Regions from separate parts of the Homo sapiens genome. Here region 1 is linked to region 2. A link means that fine-mapping ties the variant in region 2 to the expression of a gene that starts in the linked region. Tissue or cell type: whole blood. Region 2 holds a variant in brackets; the other region holds the start of a gene. All regions are shown on one strand. Distances are from middle to middle.

What was found. PIP is the estimated chance that this variant, and not a neighbour inherited with it, causes the effect.
Region 1: it holds the start of TRAF1, and the variant in region 2 is fine-mapped to the expression of TRAF1 in whole blood (TOPMed, PIP above 0.99).

The regions. Positions count from the first base shown.
Region 1 is chr9:120,923,063-120,931,062 of GRCh38, forward strand. TRAF1 (TNF receptor associated factor 1) reads right to left here and starts at 3,734. Exons shown (of 8, transcript NM_005658.5): 1 at 3,488-3,734; 2 at 2,874-3,239; 3 at 643-730. The coding sequence starts at 3,013. RefSeq lists enhancers at 2,363-2,886, 2,483-2,552, 3,013-3,352, 3,693-4,012 and a silencer at 5,673-6,262.
Region 2 is chr9:120,735,134-120,743,398 of GRCh38, forward strand. No RefSeq gene overlaps it. Among named protein-coding and RNA genes, the nearest start is that of MEGF9, 25 kb to the left of the region's middle. The variant C/T (reference allele first, on the strand shown) is at 3,169.

The DNA of each region.
Region 1 (8,000 bases), 190 kb after region 2:
TCCTGGGCTCAAGCTCTCCGCCCACCTCGGCCTCCCAAAGTGTTAGAATTACAGGCATGTAATTCTATGTAATTTGAATTCTAACACTTCAGAATTACAGGCATGTTTGTCATTTACCAAGGGGTTTATATTTGTTATTATAAGAACTTTTTTGATTATTATTGATTGGGGCTCATAACAATTCTGTGATGCAGAAAACAGTTTTACAGACAAGCAAGCTGTGGCTTGAGAACATTAGCAGTGCAGCAGGCCACACAGTGAGAGAGTGGCCTCACAGCCTCGAGAATTACAGGTCATTATGCATGGCCTATCATTCTTCTGATTTTTTCAACCATTTGAAAATATAAAAACCACTCTTAGCTCGTTGCTTAGGTGGTGGGCCAGAATGTGGCCCATGAACCGTAGTTTGTGGACCCCTGGTCTGGACTGTTCTCACTCTAAGTCTATTGCCAGGTAGCTTTAGGCAAGACACTTCACCACTGTGAACATCAGTCTCCTTATTCCTTATAAAGCAAATTCAGTCTGGACTCAGGACTAGTTGGGAGGTGCCTGCCAGGGGTGGAGTGGGCAGCTGTCTACTTGGCTTCAACCTGGAAAAATCAAGACAACGGACAAATGCCTTTCTGTGATGTGCCAACGTACCTTCTCCTGAGTTCGAAGACGGCTTCCTGGGCTTATAGACTGGAGGTCTTCCCCTCTGCATTTGGGGCAGATCTGATCCTCGCCATTCCTGGGGAAACATGGACAAAGCCTTGGAGAGAGGCACTACAGCTCCCTGCACCATCCACTCTCCTGACAGCTCCAGAAGCCTCAACTATCAGCAGGGTGGTGATCATGTACGTCCACAATCCCAGAGCCACAGTTCCTAAATCGCAAAACTGCCGAGTATCCCACATTTTTTGGTAGTTTGCAGTGAGCTTCCTGGGCTGCCAAACCTGCCGTGACTGCACTGACCGGAAGCTATTATAGCCCTTACTTGCCCCACTTAGTGTGAATATATACATGTTTCATTGCAGAAACATTAATGTGCTTGATTACAGGGCACTGCCGCATTCCCTGCCACAATTACATGATGCCCTGATTTGCTTTTCTAAAAAAAATTCTGAATTACAAAACACATCTGATCTCAGGGGTTTAGGCAAAAGATTGCTGACATGTGACTATATTTGCTCTTCTCATTTGGTCCTCCATTTGGTTTTGGTCTTATATGTTTAGTAATTACAGAGGATCATGGCCTATTAGAACAAGAAAGGGCCTCAGAGAACATCTGTCCTAGAGGTTCTTAATCAGGAATGGGTGTCAGATTCTAATGGGTAACACCTGGGTACCCGTGGGTTTTTTGTCTGTTTTTTGGGGGTTTTTCTTTTTTTGAGACAGGGTCTTACTCTGTAGCCCAGGCTGGAGTGCAGTGGTGCGATCTCAGCTCACTGCAACCTCTGCCTCCCAGGTTCAAGTGATTCTCATGCCTTAGCCTCCCAAGTAGCTGGGATTACAGGTGCACACCACCACACCCAGCTAATTCTTGTATTTTTAGTAGAGATGAGGTTTCACCTTGTTGGCCAGGCTGGTCTCAAACTCCTGACCTCAAGTGATCCTCCTGCCTCGGCCTGCCAAAGTGCTGGGATTACAGGCATGAGCCACTGCGCCTGGCCAGCAACTGTGTTTTTACAAAGCTCCTGGTGTCTCTGACCTGCTACCGCTACCGAGATAGTCTATTTTACAAGTGAGGGAATGAGGCCCCAGAGGGCATGTGGATTGGTCAAGGTAGAGTGAGTCAGGAGCAGAGCTGAGTAGAAGCTCTTCAGGACTTAGGCCTCAGGCCTCAGCCCTCCAACTTCCAATCAGCTCCCTCCTCTGCCAGGTTTTGGAAGGAGGGAGAGGGGAAACCAGGAGACCCACTACCAGAGCCTGAGCTGAACCCTGACAATCCGCTTGATGGTAAAACCAGTGAACCTCTGCTCCTCCACCTCCTGGCTGGCCTTTCCACGGCCACAGCCTCTCCTCGCTATTCTCACAGCCTCCTCCTTTGTCGTCATGTTTGAACTTCTCACTTGCCTGATTCAGCTTTGCCACCTTCTTAAGCTGTAAAACCGCAAACAAAAGGTCATCACATGAGATAGTTTAAGGGCATATTTGCCAGGAAACTGACCAAAGCTGACCTAATCTGTTAGGCCTCAGTGTTCTCATTTGTAAAATAGGATCATAATAGTATCCACCCCTCTAAGTTGTGCTGAGGACCCAAGGGCAGAGCATTTGGCACACAGTAGGTGCATAATTGCTTAAAGAGGGATGTCCACAATAGTACTGATATCATGCCTTTCTGGGTTGTTAATATTTTAAGTATCATTAAATACACAAATATATATCGATCTCTTTGTCCCCTCCAAAAGGGTTCCCAGCAAACGGTCTGAGGTGATGAGCAATGCTGTGGAAGGAGAGATATTCGTCTAACAGTTTGTCATTCACCAAGAGGTTTATATTTGTTATTATAAGGACTTTTGTGATTATTATTCATTGGGCTTCATTAACAATTCTATGACACAGAAAACAGCTTTACAGACAAGCGAGCTGCGGCTTAGGGACATTAGCAGAGCACCAGACCACACAGTGAGACAGTGGCCTCACAGCCTCGAGGCTCTCCTCGGTGTGGATGGCTTTCCCCTGTGGGAGCTGATGCCTTTCTGTGGCTTCCTCTCCTTCCACCACAGCCAGAGGGGCAGTGTCAGGGAGTGTGAGAAAAGGGTGTGGAAACTGAGGCCCAGAGAAGAAAAGTCACCGCCTGAAGTCACAGGCTCCTCTGCCCCTCACCTCCCATCAGGGGTCCCTCCCTGGCACCCACTTTCTGCCCACCCTCCGCTCCTCCATCACCTCACCTCGGGTTCTCAGAGAGACAGCCTGCACAGCAGAGAGCCCTGGGCTCCTTTGGGTCCTGGCAGACGGTGGGAGGGCACCCAAAGGGAAACTCATTCTCATCAGGGGCCGGGCGAGGACTGCTGCCTGAGCTGGAGGCCATCTCAGGGTTCCAGGCTGGCCAGAGGGCCTGTTTAAGTTGCTCCAGGGCAGGGGACCAGCCTTGTGGAGTCCTGGCCTGGGCCTCACTCTCTGGTGAGTAGGAGCTCTGATGACTTTATCTTCTTCTCTCTGGCTTGTGTGGTTCAACGTCACAGCTGAGTCACAGCAGGGATGGAGCAGGAATTACCCTTTGTGGCGATAAAAATCCCCTGGATGGTGACTGAAGGCTTTAGGAGTGTCCAGTCATTTTTTTTTTTTTTTAGAGTGAGAAAAAGCAAGAGAGCAAGTCAGAGAAAATGACCCGTGTCACAGACTCTCAGAAAGCACAGTGAGAGTTCCCCTGGTTGAGAATCGCAGGCTGCCGCTGGCTTCCCCCACTTCCCTGGGCACATCGGAGGAGGGGGCCACAGCTGGTCCCTGGTCTGTGTTCCCTGGCACCTCTGAGCAGCCTGGAATTCTCAGTGGGGGTGCTCACCTTCCTGGTGGAAATCCCCAGGGTGTTGGAGACAGGTCCAAAATTTCAAGTTCTAGGCGCTTTTGCTCTGCTCTGTTTGGAGTGTCTGGGTGACCTCAAGGAGAAGTCACTTCCTCACAGTGGGTTCTGATGACTCCATCTGTAAAAAAGAAGTTGCAACAGGTGGCCTCTGGGCTGTAAGATTCTGGGACCCTATCTTGCCTGGGACTGAGGCAACCAGAAGGAGCAGGAAAGCCCTGATGAAATCCAAGGCCTAGGACCACAGACTCCTCAGGGCCCTCCCCACACCACCCCACTCAGGAAGTCATAGGTGGCTACATGCTCCGGTCAGGTGCCACCACTTTACTGCCTCAAGGAGAACAAAGCGCTAAACAAATGCAAGATCACAGCAGCTGGTCTCAGCATCCAAGTGGGATGTAGATCCACATTTGCAGGAAAAGTGCACTGGGGAAACGATGGCTCCCAGAATGTGTACTGTGTGCTGGGCAACAGTTTCCCTCCAAATCCTTACAGCAACCTGCAAGGAATTCTTCTGCAGCTGTATATAGGGTCAGAGAAGCAAGATGCCTGGTCCAAAGGCACACAGCCTCTGGTAGTGGAGTGGGATTCACACCAGGGCTGTGGGGCCCCAAGCTCTGTGTGCTTGGGATGGAGATCAGAGTACCCAGCTCTTGTCTCATCTATCAAATGGAGAAGACAATCCCTACACATCTTTCCATCCTGCTTGGCTGCTACAGAGGTTTTGCAAACTTTCACAGTGGTTTCAGATCATGGGTTTTGAGGTCAGACAGAGCTGAGTTGAAATCCTGGGTCCACTGCTTACTAACTGTGGGCCCTGGGACAAAGTCCTTAACTTCCCTGAAACTCAGATTCTGCATCTGTAAAATGGGACAATAATACCTATTTCACCCATTTGTTGTGATGACTAAATGAGATAGTGGGTCAAAGTGTGGTGTGTAACCCAAGTGAAGTACTTGAATGACATTTGGCTCAGATGGTGACTACAGGCCTTCCAGCTCCTCAGAGAAAAGGATTAAAGTGGTGCATTATGCTTATACTGTGCTTTCACGTCTATCTACTGGAGCCTCAACAGGTGGGCAGGGCAGGTCATCTGGCCTGAGATACATTAAACTGCCCACCTGCCCTGGTGTAACACCAGGGCTGCCACAGGCTGGTGGCAAAGACAGCACGGCATCTTACCGCCACAATGTACATCAGGACCTCCACCCCCATAACAAACGACCTCCAGGCCTGCATCAAGACTATCAGAAGACACTCCCTTTTAACTGTGTACCCCATACCTGCAAGCTTTCCTGCAGCCAGCCCTACCTGTTCCCTCCTTCCCCTGGTTTGGGATAAAACAGGCACCCAAGACTTCTCTCCCCATCTGTGGGTCCCTTCTCTCCCCTCCGGCCTCAATACCACCCTCTCTACCTGCTCATTCCCACGGACATCAAAACGTGCGCAACCTGCTCTAATAAGAAAAGGGAAAAATAGTACTACTTTTGGGTACCGTCTTACGTAATTTTACAGACATCATCTCATCTAATTTTCACTCTGTGAAGCAGGTATTGCCATCATCATCCCCACCTTACAGATGAGAAAACTGAGGCACAGAGAGGCTAAGCGACTTGTTCAAGGTCTCACAGCTAGTGAGTGGGGACCCCTGAACCCAGAGCCAGTCCTGTAACCACGCACGCTTTTAAAACACTCTTTATTCTCGTCTCCAATTTCTACATCTACTCTCGCCTCACCTAACGGTAGAACTTCTAGAAAAGATTGTCTATACAGGCACTTGGATCTCCAGGGAATCATCTCTCCAAGTGTATACGCATGTCGGGGACGCCAAATGCCCTGGGCCCGCCCCAGTTTCTATCCAACCAGCCCTCCTGCCAGCACCTGACCCGGCTCTCAGCCCTTCCTTCCGGAATCCCTTCCTTTCCCCGGCTTCCCGCATCCTCTGCGGGGAATTCCCCCCGCGTCTCTGGTGGCTCCTTATCCGTCTCCTTGACCCCTTTCTCTTCTACACTGGGCCTCCATCGGCTCCATCCACGAGGAGTCTCTCTGCGCCGCGTGTCCCCATCTCCCACTCGTCCTTTGGGGCGCCCCTGCACCAGACCCCACTCCCACGGGAAGTCTCCGTGGGCCGCCCCATGATGAGGCTGGGCGCCCCGCTCTGTGATTCCTCGCGCCTGCCGGCGCCAGCACAGCCCCCGCCGCCCGGCTCTGCAGGCTGAGCCCCCAGCCAGGTCGGTGAGCCCGCCCGAGGGCGGGGGAGTGTCGCGTCGCCACCTCCACATATCCAGTTGCGAGGGCAGCGCTGGGAGCCAGGCAGCGCCGGTGCCCGCGGAAAGAGGAATGAGCCCCTGCGGGGCCGGGGCGCCCGCGGCTGGGCTGGGGGCAGTTGAGTCCGGGGCGGTCTCTGCAGCCGAGGTGCCAGGTCCCCGGCTGCACCCGAGGAGTCCCCGCCTCAGCAAGCGGGAGCTGGAGCGGGGAGTTCGGGGCGAGGAAGGGGGCCGGGGAGCCGCCCTGCGGTCCCGGGGCAGGGGTGTAGGGCAGCCAACCTCGGCGCCGCCTCCGCCACCGCCTACCGGCGGCCAGGCCCGGAGCTTCCGGTGGAGTGTGAAGGACGCAGCCGCACCGGCGGAAACCGGCAAGGCAGGGCCGGGGCCCGGGGCTGCTGCTCCCCAGACCGCCGCGGGGCGGGGCGAGCGATCCCTGTGAGGGGAAACTGAGTCTGAGGGCCGGGTCTGCGGCGCCACGGGCACTGTGCGCCCAGTTAACTGACACGCGTGTACGCAGCTCCTCCGCTTGCGGGGCTCCTGGCATCTGGTGCAGCACCTGCGCGTGTTTAGTGCTCAGTAAGATGCCCCCTGAAAAAACAAACACAAACCGGGAATTGGAGCCCCCACCCTGGTCCCCTGCCTGCCCAAAATCCGAGTAGTGAGAAGGTGAAGAGGAGTAAAACCGCAGTCTTACCTTTCTTGGATTTCTCCAGAAGATCCTAGCACAGTGCCAGGCTCGCCCAAGCTTATTGGGTTGGAGCAATCAAGTGATAGTACTTGATAGTACTTGATCAAAATGATAGTACTAAGTGGTTCAAGGCACTGTGCTTTTACAAACTGGATATTTTAAGGAACCGTTTCTGTTTTCGTCTAAACACACACACACACGGTCGCTAAATCCTTAAGAATATATTAATCAAAATAGTTATGGAACTTAGTGTTGGGGTAGAATTTTAGATTAAAAGCTACACCTTTATTTTTGCGAACTACCAATTTGACAAGGGCTCCTTCTCTGTCAGATGTCTTAACCTTGTAGGACTGATGGTGGAGGGAGGGATGAAGCTGCCCACCTTGTTGGTTTGGTTTTAACAGCTCAAAATCTCTTTATGTGTTAGGGTCTTTTTTTTTTTGAGATGGAGTTTGGCTCTTGTCACCCAGGCTGGAGTGCAATGGCCCAATCGCGGCTCACTGCAACCTCTGCCTCCCGGGTTCAAGTGATTCTCCTGTTTCAGCCTCCTGAGTAGCTGGGCCCACCACCACGCCCACGACCACGCCTGGCTAATTTTTGTATTTTTAGTAGAGACGGGGGTCTCACCACGTTGGCTAGGCTGATCTCGATCTCCTGACTTCAGGTGATCCTCCCACCTCGGCCTCCCAAAGTGCTGGGATTACAGGCATGAGCCACCGCGCCTGGCCTAGGGTCCCTTTTTATGTCCTGACTCTCAACTGGATTGTAAGAGCAGGGAACGATCTTTTACTTGTTTTTTAACCTGGCATGCCTGTAAGACTCTCACTTATTGGAGGCAGAGCTGCTGTCCTCCAACTTCCGCTAGACAGGCGGAAGCTGCGGAACACAGGGTACTCTAGTGAAAGGGGGACCTCAGAGGCCCACCTGGGAGGGAGATGCTGCTTGTGGACAAGCAGAAGATCTCAGGGGCCTCTAAGAGAGAATTTCTGCAATCTATGGGCAGGGGCCTCTAAGAGAGAATTTCTGCAATCTACGGGAGGTTGCCCAGATGTAGCCTCTGTGGGGCCATTCAATTCTACGGGAAAAGGATTCAAAGAGTTAAGTGTTTGAATTAAAAATTGATGGACTCGGCCGGGCGCGATGGCTCACGCCTGTAATCCCAGCACTTTGGGAGGCCGAGGCGGGCGGATCACAAGGTCAGAAAATCGAGACCATCCTGGCTAACACGGTGAAACCCCATCTCTACTAAAAATACAAAAAATTAGCCGGGCGTGGTGGCGGGCGCCTGTAGTCCCAGCTACTCGGGAGGCTGAGGCAGGAGAAGGGCGTGAACCCGGGAGGCGGAGCTTGCAGTGAGCTGAGATCGCTCCACTGCACTCCAGCCTGGGAGAGAGTGCGAGACTCCATCTAGAAAAATAATAATAATAATAAAATAATAAATAAATAAATAAAAATTGATGGACTCTGAGTCAATTAGTCTGATAGTTTTCCCATCATCAGAAAACATTTAATTATCTTTGACCTTGCCTTTTCCTGGGTG
Region 2 (8,265 bases):
AGAGCTGGCTGGAGTCAGTGGTTGGCATCCACACGCAGCAGAGCCATGAAGCTGGCTTTCCCAGCAGCTCACATTAACTGGCAGTGGCAGCCAAGGCAGGTCAGAAGCAGAAATGCTCTCAGGGCCTCAGGAAACATCTGCAAGTCCTCAAGGAGACAAGACCTGCCCCCTTATCACCTCTTCGGGGGAGAGAGTGGGCCTATCCCATCTGCAGGGAAAGAATGAACACATTGCTTTTATTTTCCAAGGTGTGTTCCTGTAAATGAAACAATTCACTGCTATGCAACTTTTAGGATTGGCCACTTGAGAGCAGGCCTTGTACTGGACAATGGGGTGGCAGTCCTGAAATCAGAGCCACCACCTGCCTGCCAGGGCTTGTGGGGCAAGGGTGAAGATGGTGACAAGTGACAAGCAGTATTTGCAATTCAAAGTGAATGGTGCAAGGAAAAGGGGATGTGGTGTAAGGGGGAGAGTATGAACTTTGGAGTCAGAAAGTTCTGTTTCTTCATGTCCTGGTTGTGAGACTTTGGGCAAATTTCCTAACATCTCGAGGTTGTTTCCTCATCTGGAAGAAATGTAAATAGTTATACTTGTATTGCATAATTACCATGAACATTAAAAGGTACAAGTATATCAATACTTAAAATTGCCTAGCAGATAATGGGAGCTCAATAAATGATAACATTACTAGTGTTATTAAAAAGGCTCAGTTGGAGGATCTATAAATGGTGTTGTTGAAAAGAAAACAGAAGGGACATATTAGCTGGGTTTTGATGGGGAAGTAGGAGTTTGTTGACTAGCTGGTAGGCAGGAAGGGTTTTCTAGTTAGCAACTTAGCAAGGACAGCTTTGTGAAGGAGCATGGAACATCCAGGCAACATGAGTGGACCAGTTAGGAGCTACTGAAATATTCCCATCAAAATACAGGGGCGTACCCCTGGGGCAAGATGACTCTCTGACGTCCACTTACTACTATTCTCAAATAAAGGACCATGAACAACCTCTCCGTGTAAATTCATAAACCAGCATTCTTGTTAGCTACGCTTCCTGAAATGGAGCAGCCTCCAGGCCCATGGCCTGACAATCCACAGGGAACAAACAAAGCTGAGAATCAGATTCCAAGAGCCCACGCTCTTCCTTCTCTGGAGTTAGACAGGCTTGAGTTTTCATTCCTGTCCTTGCTGTGTAAACTTGGCAAGTCACTCATCTCTCTTATCTTTCAGTTTTGCCATCTGAAAAATGGGAATAATTATACATTACACAGAAATTGTTATACATTATCACAGTACCTGGTGCATGGCAGGTGCTATCTATTCTTTAGAGAAAGGAGCTGCTTTCTTGCCTGAACTTATGGCAGAGTGAAGGCAAGACTGACATATTCTGGAAGAAGCCCCACAATCTCGACCATGAAATATCAAAAAAAGACTTTCACAAAAATGGCATAGGATAGATGTTATTCTGTACTTTGCTTTTTTCAATGAATAATACAACATGTGAATACATTTAGATCTTTCTCTCTTTTTTTTTTTTTGGAGACGGAGTTTTGCTCTTGTCACCCAGGCTGGAGCCCAATGGCACAATCTCAGCTCACTGCAACTTTCGCCTCCCAGGTTCAAGCGGTTCTTCAGCCTCAGCCTCCGGAGTAGCTGGGATTACCGGCACCTGCCACCATGCCCAGCTAATTTTTGTATTTTTAGTAGAGACGGGGTTTCCCCATGTTGGCCGGGCTGGTCTCGAACTACTGACCTCAGGTGATCTGCCTGCCTTGGCCTCCCAAAGTGCTGGGATTACAGGCGTGAGCTACTGTGCCCAACCCTTCTCTTTTTTAAAAATTGAGAATTTTACAGTATTATTACAGTATTAAAGCTCACCCTTTTAAAGTGTACAAGTCAGTGGTTTTTAGCATATTCATGAGGTCTTTCTTGCAATCATCACTATTACCTAATTCAGGACAATTTCATCATCCCAAAAAGAAACCCTGTATCTGTTAGTAATCATGCCCCATTGCCCCCTTCCCCTGCCCCCAAGGACTGCTTATCTTATTTTCCATCTCTATGGATTTGCCTATTCTACACATTTCATACAAATGGAATCATATTATATGTGGCCTTCTGTGTCTAATTTATTTTATGTAGCGTAATGTTTTCAAGATTCATCCATGTTGTAGTATGTACCTCATTCCTTTTTATGGCTGAGTAATATTCCACTGTATGGATATAATACCATATTTTATTTATCTATTAGCTGATGAGCATCTAAATTGCTTCCATTTTTGGCTATTATAAAGTAATCCTAATTTCTTTAAGTAGTTGCCTTGTATTCCATTAATTAGAGGTAGCATAGTTTAGTTAAGCACTTCTTACTGAAGGATAGTTCTGGTCTTCTTCATTGTTTGCTAAGCAAAGAAAGATATTGTTACCACAACATCCTTCTAGTCTAAGAGATAGTCAAAACTTACCCCATTTCCTGAGGGAATTATCCAACAGAAGCAAAAAGTTGTATTGCAAAATATACTAATTGCAGCAATTTTTGTAGTAACACAAAATTGGGAACTACTTAAAGAGTCCACAACAAGGAGCTCTTTAAGTAAATTCTATTGTTCAATTAAATAATGTACAATTACTAAAATGATAACTATGAAGGCAATATAGCAACAAGTGAATTGCAAATGGTGATCTTAAGTGGAGGAAAAACCATGACAAAATGCAAAATGGCATCCCTTGCCCACACTGGTTCTCGCGATAGTAAGAAGTAGGGCTGGGAAGCACATCCATGCCCTCTGGCCTTGAAATTCCTGTCTCTGCCATGTCACAAGGAGGAACAGAATCCAGGCTTCCTCACTAAGGAGCAGGCTGGGGATCACTGCCACCCTACAACTACTGTGGGTTCTAGGAGAGGGCCCGCTCAGGAGAAAGGAAGGCTCCCCTCCCACGTGACGAGGGGAAGCTGAAGTCACTGTTGCCTTCCCTAGATTTTGAAGGTCCTGACTCCCTAGGTCCCCAGGGAGTGGGTCATAGCTAGGCTGTATAATGGTGACGAGAATTGTGGACCCAAGTCATCCTGGTGGCTGTGGAACCAGTTGTTCATGAAGATAGTGGGTGAACTGTTGTGATGAGTACCTTCCAAACTTCCTGTGTGTGGTGCTGGGGTCTCTTGCCAACGTCCAATA[C/T]CTAGGACAAATGCTGACTTCTCAGAGTGCCACCTGGCACTGTACTTTCCAGAGTAGTCATTGCAACTACATTCAACAGCAGTAACTGTGAATCCATTCAATTGAACCAATAATGTGAAACTGTTATTTATTTATTTATTTATAAGATGGAGTCTCACTCTATTGCCCAGGCTGCAGTGCAGCGGTGCCATATTGGCTCATCGAAACCCGGGTTTTGAGCAATTCTCCTGCCTCAGCCTCCCAAGTAATTGGGATTACAGGTGTCTGCCACAACGCTCAACTAATTTTTGTATCTTTAGTAGAGACGGGGTTTCACATGTTGGCCAGGCTGGTCTCCAACTCCTGACCTCAAGTGATCCACCTGCCTCGGCCTCCCAAAGTGCTAGGATAAAGATGAAACCCACCACGCCCAGCCTGAAACTGTTTTTTAAAAGTATCCTTCCTGCCTGTAATCCCAGTACTTTGAGAGGCCAAGGGGGTGGATCACATGAGGCCAGGAGTTCGAGACCAGCTTGGCCAACATGGTGAAACCCTGTCTCCACTAATACAAAATTAGCTGGGCGTAGTGGCGTGCACCTGTAGTCCCAGCTACTCAGGAGGCTGAGGCAGGAGAATCACTTGGACCTGGGAGGCGGAGGTTGCAGTGAGCCATGATCACGCTACTGCACTCCAGCCTAGGCAACAGAGTGAGACCCTGTCTTAAAAAATAGAATAAAAATGGCCAGGCGCGGTGGCTCATGCCTGTAATCCCAGCACTTTGGGAGGCCGAGGCGGGCGGATCACGAGGTCAGGAGATCGAGACCATCCTGGCTAACATGGTGAAACCCCATCTCTACTCAAAATACGAAAAAAGAAAAAAAAAATTAGCCGGCCGTGGTGGCGGGCGCCTGTTGTCCCAGCTGCTCGGCAGGCTGAGGCAGGAGAACGGCGTGAACACAGGAGGCGGAGGTTGCAGTGAGCTGAGATCGCACCACTGCACTCCAGCCTGGGCGACAGAGTGAGACTCCGTCTCAAAAAAAAAAAGAATAAAAATAAAAAAATAAAAGTATGCTTCTTATTGTCATGATCATGTAAACCACAATCATTGCCATTAAAAGTACACAATGTAGCAAAACCAGTGATAACCTGTAGCCTTCAAAGTATTATTAATAAGAGAAATTTATCCTCAATGGAGCATGTTGGTTGGCAGCTTATTTTTTTGGATACTTATAGTTGTGATGTTTACGTTGTGATTTTGTATTTTGTATCGACCATAAATTATATTTTTTTATTTCTAAACCTTGTAAACAAAAAATATACTAACACAGAATTTTGTTAAAGTTTATATGAAGGAATATAAAAAAAAAACATTTTCTAGTATTCAGGAAAGTATATAGTAGCTTCCCAGTCCTCTGCTACCAGCTTCCAATCAGCTCCACAAACTGTGAAACTGTCCCTAAAATGTCCCCAGTCTTAGGGAGAAGTTTGAGATTATTAGGGTCACAGCTACACTGCTGTAACAAAGAGGCCCCAAAATATCGTGGGTGCAAAAACATCAAAATTAATTTTTCTCTTACAAAACAAAACAACCAGGCTGGATTGGTCAAGTGATGCCGCCATAAACAGATACAGTTTCAGCCAGGAGCGGTGGCACATGCCTGTAATCCCAGCACTTTGGGAGGCCGAGGCAGGTGGATCACCTGAGGTCAGGAGTTCAAGGCCAGCCTGGCCAATATGGCGAAACCCCGTCTCTACTAAAAATACAAAAATTAGCAGGGCGTGGTGGCGGACACCTGTAATCCCAGCTACTCGGGAGGCTGAGGCAGGGAGAATTGCTTGAACCCAGGAGGCGGAGGTTGCAGTGAGTCAAGATGATGCCACTGGGCTACAGAGCAAGACTCTGTCAAAAAAACAAAAAACAAAAAACAGGTAGTTTCCCTGTTGGTCTCCATCCCCTAAGGTGTCATTATTTGCTTAATCAAGGCTGGGTTGCTAACTCTGGGAAAGGAGGAAGAACCAACATTCCAGATAAGGAGCTTAAATCTGGAGATGACCCAGAAAATGTTCACATCACTTCCTTTCAATATTTGGTTAGTCCACACTTAACCACATGGTCACATCCAGCTGCACAGGAGTCTAGGAAATGTAGCCTGTAGCTGGGCAACTGTGCCCAGGAAGAGGGGAAGAATTTGGAGGAATAAGTAGCCATCTGCTACAGAGATTCTTTTTAATTTAAAAAATTTACAACATAAAAGAATTATATTACAATCCCATCATACAACTACTGACATTTTTCTATTGTTCTTTCCACATTTGAAACATGTGTGTTCCATGTATTTTTATAAAGTTGTAAAAATAGTATGTATGCAATTTTACATTCTACCAGAAATAAAACAGTATAATGAAAATAACATTAGATTCAAACAATGATATGCTATTTTTTTACCTATGACATTGGCAAGGTCTTTTAAAAAACCACAATAACCAGTGTTGGAGAGATCATGGGGAAATAGCCACTCAAACGTTACTCATGAGAGTGTACACATGTGTAACTTCACTTGGAGGGCAATTTGGTGATACATTTAAAAGTTTTGGCCAGGTTTGGTGGTGTACACCTGTATCCCCAGCTACACGGGGAGGCTAAAGCGGGAGGATGGTTTGAGCCCAGGAGTTTGAGGCTGCAGTGAGCTACGATCGCACGACTGCACTCCAGCCTGGGTAATGGAGGGAGACACTGTCTCAAAAAAAAAAAAAAAAAATTTACAATTTAACCTAAGGGGAAAAATGTAGAGATGTGGGTACAGATTTGTATAAAGGCTGGTTGTCGAAGCCTTACTTATGCTAAAAAATAGAACTAACCTAAATATCCAATGGGGATTGTTTAAATGAATTATGATTCAACCTTCCACAGAGATTAGAATCATGCTCTTGAAGAACACTGATGATGTAAAAAGTCTGCTAACATATTAAGTGAGAAAGCACATTACAAAATGGAATATATGTTCTGATAATTTTTGGTAAAAATTATCCATAGCTGTAAAGAGGACTAGAAGAATATTCACCCAAATGTCAACAGTGGTTCTTCTGGGTGAGTGCTATTGACAGCGGTTTTTACTTCCTTATTTACTCCTTTTGATATTTTTCAAATATTTGGCAATAGACATGTATTAGTTTTACAATAAAGGGGTTATTTAAAACACTGAATTAGACATACAGAATCCTAATACATTAGAGCAGAAATGATCCTTGAACTCCTTCATGTTTCAAATGGGGAAACTGAGGTCCAGAGAGGGTGAGTGACTTGCTAAAGTAACACAACTAGTTAGAATTGAGATTTGAACTGAAGTAGTTTGTCTTCAAGGCTGGTGTTCTTATCACTATATAACTAAAAAAAAAAACAAAAAAAAACACCTTTTTTTTTCTTTTTCTTTTTGTAGTCAATGTTCTGCTGAATAAAAAGAACTTTTCTAAAAACAGCTTGACTCCTGGCAGCTTAGTCAGTGTTGAGGTACACAAAAAAACAAAGTGTCTGTAAGTCCTTGGAGAACTTAAAACAAAACAACTTAAAACATACACACACAACAAATTTCTGGTACATCCAGTGCTTATAAGGAAATATACATTGGGAAAACAAACATTCACACTGATAGAAACAGGATATGAGTGTCTCATTCATTCATTCAAAAAATATTTGTTGCGCACCTACTACATGCTGTTTTTAACACACTAGATCCTGGTAATCAATGGTAAACAGACATGATTCTCACTCTTCTGGTGCTTACAGTATTTAAATTCTGCTAATGTTTGTTGAACATCTACTATACACTTTACATATTTTTAAAGTTTTTTTCAATATAGAGATGGGGGTCTCACTATGTTGCCCATGCTGGTCTCAAACTCCTGGGCTCAAGTAATCCTCCTGCCTTGGCCTCCCAAAGTGCTGGGATTACAGGCATGAGTCACGACACCTGGCCAACGCTATACATTTTTTACAAACCTTTGTCATTGTACTATACCAATAATATTAACCCCCACTTTATGAGTTATAATTTAGCTACTAAGCATTGTAACTAGGCACTATTTCTAATCTTACAACAGCCCTATGAGATAGGTATCATTAACTCTATTTCACAGATGAGAGAACTAGAATCATAGATATTAAGTGGATTTCCCAAGATTACACAGACTAAGTGACAGATCTGTTTTCTAATGCTCATCTCATTGCCCTTAAACATAGGGTCCTCTTCCCACAACTGTAGCCTCAACCTCGAGCACCCACTCATTACAGAGGTTAAATAAAGGGCTAGGACTTAATGAATTTAGACCATTTCAGACTTATTGAACTTATTGGGATGGAGCCCAGGAATCTGCTATTCTTTTATTATTATTATTATTATTTATTTATTTATTTATTTGAGACGGAGTCTCGCTCTGTCGCCAGGCTGGAATGCAGTGGCGGATCTCACTGCAACTTCTGCCTCCCAGGTTCAAGCGATTCTCCTGCCTCAGCCTCCTGAGTAGCTGGGATTACAGGCATGCGCCACCATGCCCAGCTAATTTTTGTATTTTTAGTAGAGATGGGGTTTCACCATGTTGGCCAGGATGGTCTCGATCTCTTGACCTCGTGATCTGCCCGCTTCAGCTTCCCAGAGTGCTGGGATTACAGGCATGAGCAACTGCGCCCAGCCAAATCTGTCATTCTTGATAAGATCACTCTATAACTTGTATCTGTGCTAAAGTTCAGGGGCCACCGCCCTTATCTGTAACCTGGAATCCTACAATTCAATCTCCCATTAGAGAATGTATCCTTAGGTCTCAGGTGGAATGTACCAATTCTCAAATTCCACTAGGGGACAGTATAGGCCAATATGTCTAGACAAGTGGCACACTGTGGAAGACTGTGGAATCAATCACTGATGACATTCATTCATCCCTGGACCAACAGCGAGGGCTTGTCGGCTGCCAGGCACTGGGCTGAGCAAAGGTGGATGATTTCTGTAATGCTATTTACAAACTTAGAAAGCTGCTTTGGGGCCAGATGCGGTGGCTCAGGTCTGTAATCCCAGCACTTTGGGAGGCCGAGGTGGGTGGATCACCTGAAGTCAGGAGTTTGAGATT